2 linked regions of the Homo sapiens genome follow. The protein of the gene in region 1 purifies or fractionates together with the protein of each later gene. This does not show direct contact. Each region holds a gene or a part of one and is shown in the gene's direction. Other genes may lie near its edges.

Evidence for each region. Proteins that work in one complex are often made in the same cells at the same time.
Region 2: the proteins of CAST (region 1) and NUDC fractionate together in Homo sapiens (co-fractionation; 2 studies listed by BioGRID). This does not show direct contact.

Annotation. Positions count from the first base shown.
Region 1 is NC_000005.10:96,770,347-96,774,099, forward strand, and holds part of CAST (calpastatin), read left to right. Parts: intron 1-184; coding exon 185-256; intron 257-1,297; coding exon 1,298-1,333; 3' UTR 1,334-1,356; intron 1,357-2,293; 3' UTR 2,294-3,753.
Region 2 is NC_000001.11:26,924,599-26,928,351, forward strand, and holds part of NUDC (nuclear migration protein nudC), read left to right. Parts: intron 1-3,753. UniProt on the Homo sapiens protein: Plays a role in neurogenesis and neuronal migration. Necessary for correct formation of mitotic spindles and chromosome separation during mitosis. Necessary for cytokinesis and cell proliferation.

The DNA of each region.
Region 1 (3,753 bases):
CTCCTGCTTTAAACAATTCTCTGACACCGTTGTTCAAAAAAAATCATGAAAAAACACCCAAAGTCTTCCATTATTTAATTAAATTGGAGATCTCAGAATGGTCTGGATTAATTTAACTGCAGCCTAGTTAATTGCTAGATGGATTGGTGATAGCCATAGCCTCATTACATTTCCTTTGCTTTAGGATAAGTGCAAGAAGGCTGCTTCCAGCTCCAAAGCACCTAAGAATGGAGGTAAAGCGAAGGATTCAGCAAAGGTAAATGGAGCAGTAAATATACTACAAATTAGTTTAGCAGTTACACAGAGTAGGGTTTATCATTTCAGTCATTTAGTTTCCTACTGGAATCTATTTAGAATAAAATTTCTTAAAGTACTATCTATCCCATAGCATCGCTTGGTAAAGTAATTGAATTTGTATAAATACATATATTTTTAAGTAACTGGTGCTTTAAAATCCTAAATGAATGTTCTTGACACAACCCAATTTGCCTGTGTTTTGCCTGTCTTTCTTGCCCTAATTAAAATACCACCATAGTATGTGGTTTATATAGATTTTAGAACATGGAAGTTGGAAACTTCCTATTATTAAAATTACTCAAGCTGTGATGAGAAATGAAAATTGGATTAGACAACTTCTAGGTCCCTTCCAATTCCAAGAACATATGATTTAAATGATTATTACTATGATCCCCTGGCTATAAGGAGGAGTTAAAGGTGTAGCTTTAAAGACAATAGTCCAGTTACACCAAAGCTTTTAAAACAATATATTAAAATCTTCCTGTAGTAGATTCCCTTAAGGGATATAGGAAACAGCATTGATAATTGGCAGTTATGCCATTATATCTCAGTTTAAATACTTATTTGCCTATTATTTAATTTCAGTTATACGAAGTACTTAATCAGCCCTTTAACAAATAATAGAAAGCATAATAACCCTTTATGATGAGTGGATTTACTGGACAGCCATGACCCTATGTACAGGAAAGGAAGGATCACCACAGAATGAAACATTGCCATTTAAGAACACCTATGCATATTTTATAACCTACCCTAGCCTTAAAAAAATAAAGCTGAGAGTGATACATTTAGGATCAGGATCACTTAAGGTTATTTTTAGCTTATAAGCTTGAGGAGGAAGAACTCACAATATTGTGGCCAGATGAAGAAGAGAAACTGAAAGGACCATCTTATTTTTCCCCACTGACTGCCATCTTTTGTCCCCTAATTCTGAGAAGGCCATCTCCTCATACTTAATACAGAAAAGAAAGCTCACGGATGGTTTTGCTTTCCCTTTTAGACAACAGAGGAAACTTCCAAGCCAAAAGATGACTAAAGAAATACAAGTTAAGGTATCTGGTAAGTTGGGTGTTTATTTGTAAATGAAGACAACTGTATCTTCTGCCAATTTATGTGTTATAGATGAGAGAAGTGAAGTCCACCTCTTGAGTAATTCATGCTCACTTTACAGTATTGGCATGAAATGCATACTGCAAGATCTACAGAGTAATTGGTCATTCTCTGAAAGCACTAAATGGGATGAGTTTGCTATTGAAATGTTTAAAAACCTTAATCTTATAATTAAAAGCTTTTAAAAATATTAGGCCAGGCACTTAGAATGACCATCTGAGGCTAGTTGAATCTTTGAAATCCAAATGCTCATTACTGCAGGTTATTGTGGCAAAGCAAAATTAGCATGTTACAACTTAGCGAAATGTCCTGAAGACATTGGCATTCCCCAGAATACCAATACATGGTGGGGTGGGGAGAAGTACCCTTTAGAGTCTGGTGGAAATTACAGGGTTTTGGGAACAAGGGCAAAGGAAAAGATTGGCCATTTTTATTTGTCATTATTTTGGAAAGTAAAGTACTGTGTTTGATTCTAATTTATAATTGCTGAAGAAACTGGACAGATTGAAGGGATTTCTGAGATCTTCAGAACTGGGCCCTTATCTTAATCTTCAGAAAGGAGAGGGCTTAATGTAAGCCTTAAAAGCATACAAGCACTTACTGACCAAAGCCTAAAAGAAATCAAAGTATAGGTTAAATCGGGTTCAGCTCTCTCACCATGATCCATGTTTATTTCCTAGGAAAAAAGGAGCTATATTAGGTAGAACTGCTCTAACATTTTTCCCAAAATTAAAAAAAATTCTATTAATCCACTTTCATGTTTACTTATAGGAAATTCCTTCTGTCTGTTATACAATGCTTTTGCTAAGTGGTATATTTACTATGTCTGTAACAAGAAAATTACATATTAAATGATTCACTGCATTTTTTATTTGAAATTTTTAAGGTATCTGCATGTAAAATCTTCAGCTGGTGGATGGTGACTTTTGAAGAACAAAAGGCTTTGGCAACAGAAAACAATTGTTCTGGGTGATTTCTAGAATGGTTTTTGTTGAGTCTCTGAACATCCTAAATATTGGTTTGTTATTCTTTTCCAGAAAGAAAATGAATTTGACTGGTTCACCTGTGTACTGAGTATTGATAAACTTTGAATTTTTTTAATTGCCTTCAATTGGGAGAGAAAGCTTTATATTTGTAAGAAATATATTTGATAAAGTTTCTTAAAGCAACACCAAAAAAACAAAAGAAAAGCTAAGTGAATTTTTGCACATTCTACACACAGTGCCTGTAAATCTCATTTGTATTTTCAGTTTGCCCTTAATTTTTTTTGTTAGTGTTTAGAAAACAATGTTTTAAACATTCTTCAGTGTTCTGATTTCTTATTACCCCCTTTCCTCTTGGGCTTTTGAACTGTATTTGATGTTGCTTTGGGATAATGTTTATAAGTCAAACATAAGATATTGTACATTGGGCACATATCTCCTCTTGGGCTGCTAATAATAAATTAATAACAGGTAACCTGGACAAACCAGGAAGCACCAAACCCCTTTTCAGTTTGAACTCTTCTTTGCCAGGTGTGAGGACTTCTGCATCTTACAGTCAGCACAGAACACACTGAGACTTGAATCAAGTCAGCAACAGAGCAAAATAAAGGTTAGATAAGTCCTTGTGTAGCAAATTTCGAGCATAAGAAATAAAATCTAATTAATTCTTAGGGTACTCATCTGACTTGAACTCTGTTGGTTTACTGTGTTAGTAAACTGTGCTTTCTATTATCTATACATAAAACCTGAGCAGCAACTGTGTCTTTAGAGCTATTGCCACATTAGCCTTTGCACTGTATAGCGTCTGGCTTTATGGAACTTAAGTTTACCAAATATAAAAAGAAACTTCTGCTTTTAAAAAAATTATATATATATATTAAATTTGAAACCTGCATTTCTCCCACAGCAATGTAAGAAGTAGGCTCTGATGTCCTACCACTTTGAATGGTTTTCTAATATCTTAATGAATAGTTCCTGAACATTGCACTGATATCATCGATTAGAATTTTGATATTTAATTTCATCTTTATTTCCTGGTAGAGAATGCAGGAAAAGATGTCAGGTACATAACATAAAACAGATTGGGAATTTATTGTTTCCAAAGGGCATGGCCTTCCTTAGCATCAGTTTGAAGCTTTTGTTATGACTTAGCTGACTTGTGGCAGCGGGGCAAGCAAAAACAATAACACTGCTTATAAATGGCACCACATCTTGTTAACCTCCCCCCCAAATACTCTCTGAAAGTCATGCACATACCTATGGGATTTTACACACCACCAGCTTAAAATGCTATGTCTCTATCCATCAGAAATAGTCATTATTCTATTTTTAAGGCAGCAACAAGAAAAGAAAAAACACTTTT
Region 2 (3,753 bases), on another chromosome or scaffold:
GCTGAAGCGCAGTGGCGCAATGTCGGCTCACTGCAACTTTCGCCTCCTGGGTTCAAGCAATTCTCCTGCCTCAGCCTCCTGAGTAAGTGGGATTACAGGCGCCCGCCACCACACCTGGCTAATTTTTGTATTTTGATAGAGACGAGGTTTCATCATATTGGCCAGGCTGGTCTCGAACTCCTGACCTCATGATCCACCCGCCTCGGCCTCCCAAAGTGCTGGGATTACAGGTATAAGCCACTGTGCCTGGCCAGGAGGTTTTATTTTTACTTTTATTTATTTTATTTTATTTTATTTTTTGAAATGGAGTCTCATTCTGTTGCGCAGGCTGGAGTGCAGTGGCATAATCTAGGCTCACTGCAACCTCCGCCTCCTGGGTTTAAGTGATTCTTGTGCCTCAGCCTCCCAAGTAGCTGGGATTACAGGCAGGCGCCACCATGCCTGGCTAATTTTTGTATTTTTAGTAGAGATGAGGTTTCACCATGTTGGCCAGGCTGGTCTCGAACCCCTGACCTCAAGTGATCCACCCACCTCGGCCTCCTAAAGCGCTGGGAGTACAGGTGTGAGCCACTGCACCCGGCCTGAGGAGGTTTTAACTAATAACCTAGGAGATGAGACTGGGCAAATATTAGAAACTGATGCTTAGAAATAAATTTAGAAGGCCGGGCGCGGTGGCTCACGCCTGTAATCCCAGCACTTTGGGAGGCCGAGGCTGGCGGATCACGAGGTCAGGAGATCGAGACCATGCTGGCTAACACGGTGAAACCCCGTCTCTACTAAAAACACAAAAAATTAGCCAGGCGAGGTGGCGGGCGCCTGTAGTCCCGGCTACTCTGGAGGCTGAGGCAGGAGAATGGCGTGAACCCCGGGGGGCGGAGCTTGCAGTGAGCCGAGATCGCGCCATTGCACTCCAGCCTGGGCAACAGTGAGACTCCGTCTCAAAAAAAAAAAAAAAAAAAAAAGAAATAAATTTAGAAATACTCAGAGGCATGTCTTCCCAGATGCTGTGACTCAGAGTTTAAGGATTTCTGTTTTGTAGTATTGATTCTGAGACCTTGAACTTCTTTCTGATTCCTTAAAGTTGTAATTATACTTTTGAAAATTGTTATATCATGAGGAATTTTTTTTTTTTTTTTTTTTTGAGACAGAGTTTCACTCTGTTGCCCAGGCTGCAGTGCAATGGCACGATCTCAGCTCACCACAACCTCCGCCTTGCGAGTTCAAGCAATTCTCCTGCCTCAGCCTCCTGAGTAGCTGGGATTACAGGCATGCACCACCACGCCTGGATAATATTTGTATTTTTAGTAGAGATGGGGTTTCACCATGTTGGCCAGGCTGGTCTTGAACTCCCAACCTCAGGTGATCTGCCTGCCTTGGCCTCCCGAAGTGCTGGGATTACAGGTGTGAGCCACCATGCCCAGCCTTTTTTTTTTTTGAGACGGAGTCCCGCTCTTTTTATCCAGGCTGGAGTGCAATGGTGCGATCTTGGCTCACTGCAATGTCTGCCTCTTGGGTTCAAGCAATTATTGTGCTCAGCCTCCTGAGTAGCTGAGATTACAGGCGTGAGCCACCACGCCCGGCGCCATTATCTTTATAATAGACATAAACAAGAGACATAATAAGAAGGAGACGTAGACGTTCTTTGCAAACCGTTTTCTGTGGCTTCAGGATTCTAACAAGTTGGTAAACTCTTTAATGTGTCCTGAATGTCTGAGGCCACTCTGTCATAGACACATTACCTAAGAGTAGGAGTCCCAGGTTCTTGGTCTAGCTTTGTCACCTAGTCGAGTTCCCAGCAATGCTCTGGTTCTTTCCATCTTTACATCTGTAAAATGGGAGAAAGTAGACCCCTTCTAGCTCAGATATTTTTTCTGTATTGTCACTAACACCTCTGGCCTTTCTGTGGGTCAGACTACCTGTAAAACCTCATGCCGCAAACTTACAAAAAAATACAAAAGCACTTTTAGTTTTTATAGCTTTTGGGACTAGTCATTTATTTTTTCTTTCTTTTTTTTTTTGACACGGAGTTTCATGCTTGTTGCCCAGTCTGGAGTGCAATGGCACGATCTCAGCCCACTGCAACTTCTGCCTCCCAGGTTGTAAGTGATTCTCCTGCCTCAGCCTCCTAAGTAGGTGGGATTACAGGCATGCACCACCATGCCTGGCTAATTTTGTATTTTTAGTAGAGACAGGTTTCACCATGTTGGTTAGGCTGTTCTCAAACTCCTGACCTCAGGTGATCCCCCAGCCTCAGCCTCCCAAAGTGCTGGGATTACAGGCGTGAGCCACTGCACCCGGCCTACTTTTTTCAATGAATGTTTATTGAACACTTAACACTTTGGATTATGTTAGGTGCTATATCAAACCTTTTGGGATTGCAGAGGTGAATACAGATTTGTTCTTTGTTTTCATGGATCTCACAGTGTAGCCAAAATAAAAAAAACAAGCAGTGAAAAAGTAGTGGGTGTTGGGGCAGAATCCCTGGGAACATAAAACTAACCTAGGTTGGGGGCTCAGAGAAGACTTTGTGAGGAAGTGACGCTTCAGATATGAAGGATGAATAGCTGTAAGAAGGGAGAGAGATGAACCGTGTGTGTGTGTGTCAGGGTCTTGCTCTGTTGTCCCAGCTGGAGCACAGTGGCTGTAAGAAGGGAGAGAGATGAACCGTGTGTGTGTGTGTGTGTGTGTGTGTGTGTGTGTGTGTGTCAGGGTCTTGCTCTGTTGTCCCAGCTGGAGCACAGTGGCGTGATCCAGCCGCCTTAGCCTCCCAAAGTGCTGGGACTACCTAATTTTTCTTTTTCTTTTTTTTTTTTTTTTGAGACGGAGTCTTGCTCTATGACCTAGGCAGGAGAGCAGTGGAGCGATCTCAGCTCACTGCAATCCCCGCCTCCCAGGTTCAAGCGATTCTTCTGCCTCAGCCTCCTGAGTAGCTGGGATTACAGGCGCCCGCCCCTATGCCTGGCTAATTTTCGTATTTTTAGTAGAGCCGGGGTTTCACCATGTTGGTCAGGTTGGTCTCGAACTCCTGAGCTCGTGATCTGCCCGCTTCGGCCCCTCAAAGTGCTGGGATTACAGTCATGAGCCACTGCGCCCAGCCCCTAATTTTTCTTAACTGTAAGAGGGAGCAGTCCTTACCTTACAAGGATGTTACGAGGATTTAAAAAAAGGCAAAGACCACAATCCACTTCAGAATCCCTTGGGGCCACATGTGTTTTGGTATTTAAAATTATTTGGATTTCAGAAAGGCAATACAGTGCATATAATGTGCATTACATACAATAATCTAATCGCAGGCCAGGAGCTGCATCCTGCAACAAAACACATTAATATTTCTGCAGAAATATATATATCAATATACATACCAAGTAGAAGAAATGAAGACTGTAAATACCTCATGCCACGAACTTACAAAAAAATACAAAAGCACTTTTAGTTTTTATAGCTTTTGGGGCTAGGAATTGTAGACTTGAATACAGCCATAGTGATCTAATCAATATGGTATTGATAGAAGAAGAGAAAAATGGACCAGTGAAGCAGAATAGAGAATCCTGAAATAAAGTCTGGCATTTATGAGGATTTAATGTGTCTATTGTGGTAATTCAGTTCAGTAGGCAAAGCATGATTTAATAAGTCATGCTGCTACATGAATTTTTTTTGGTTAAAAAAACAAAATTTGCCATCTGTCATACTCTATAAAAATACCAATAATAAAAATCCTGTAAGGAAAACTAGGAAACTATAGTCTTATGTGGG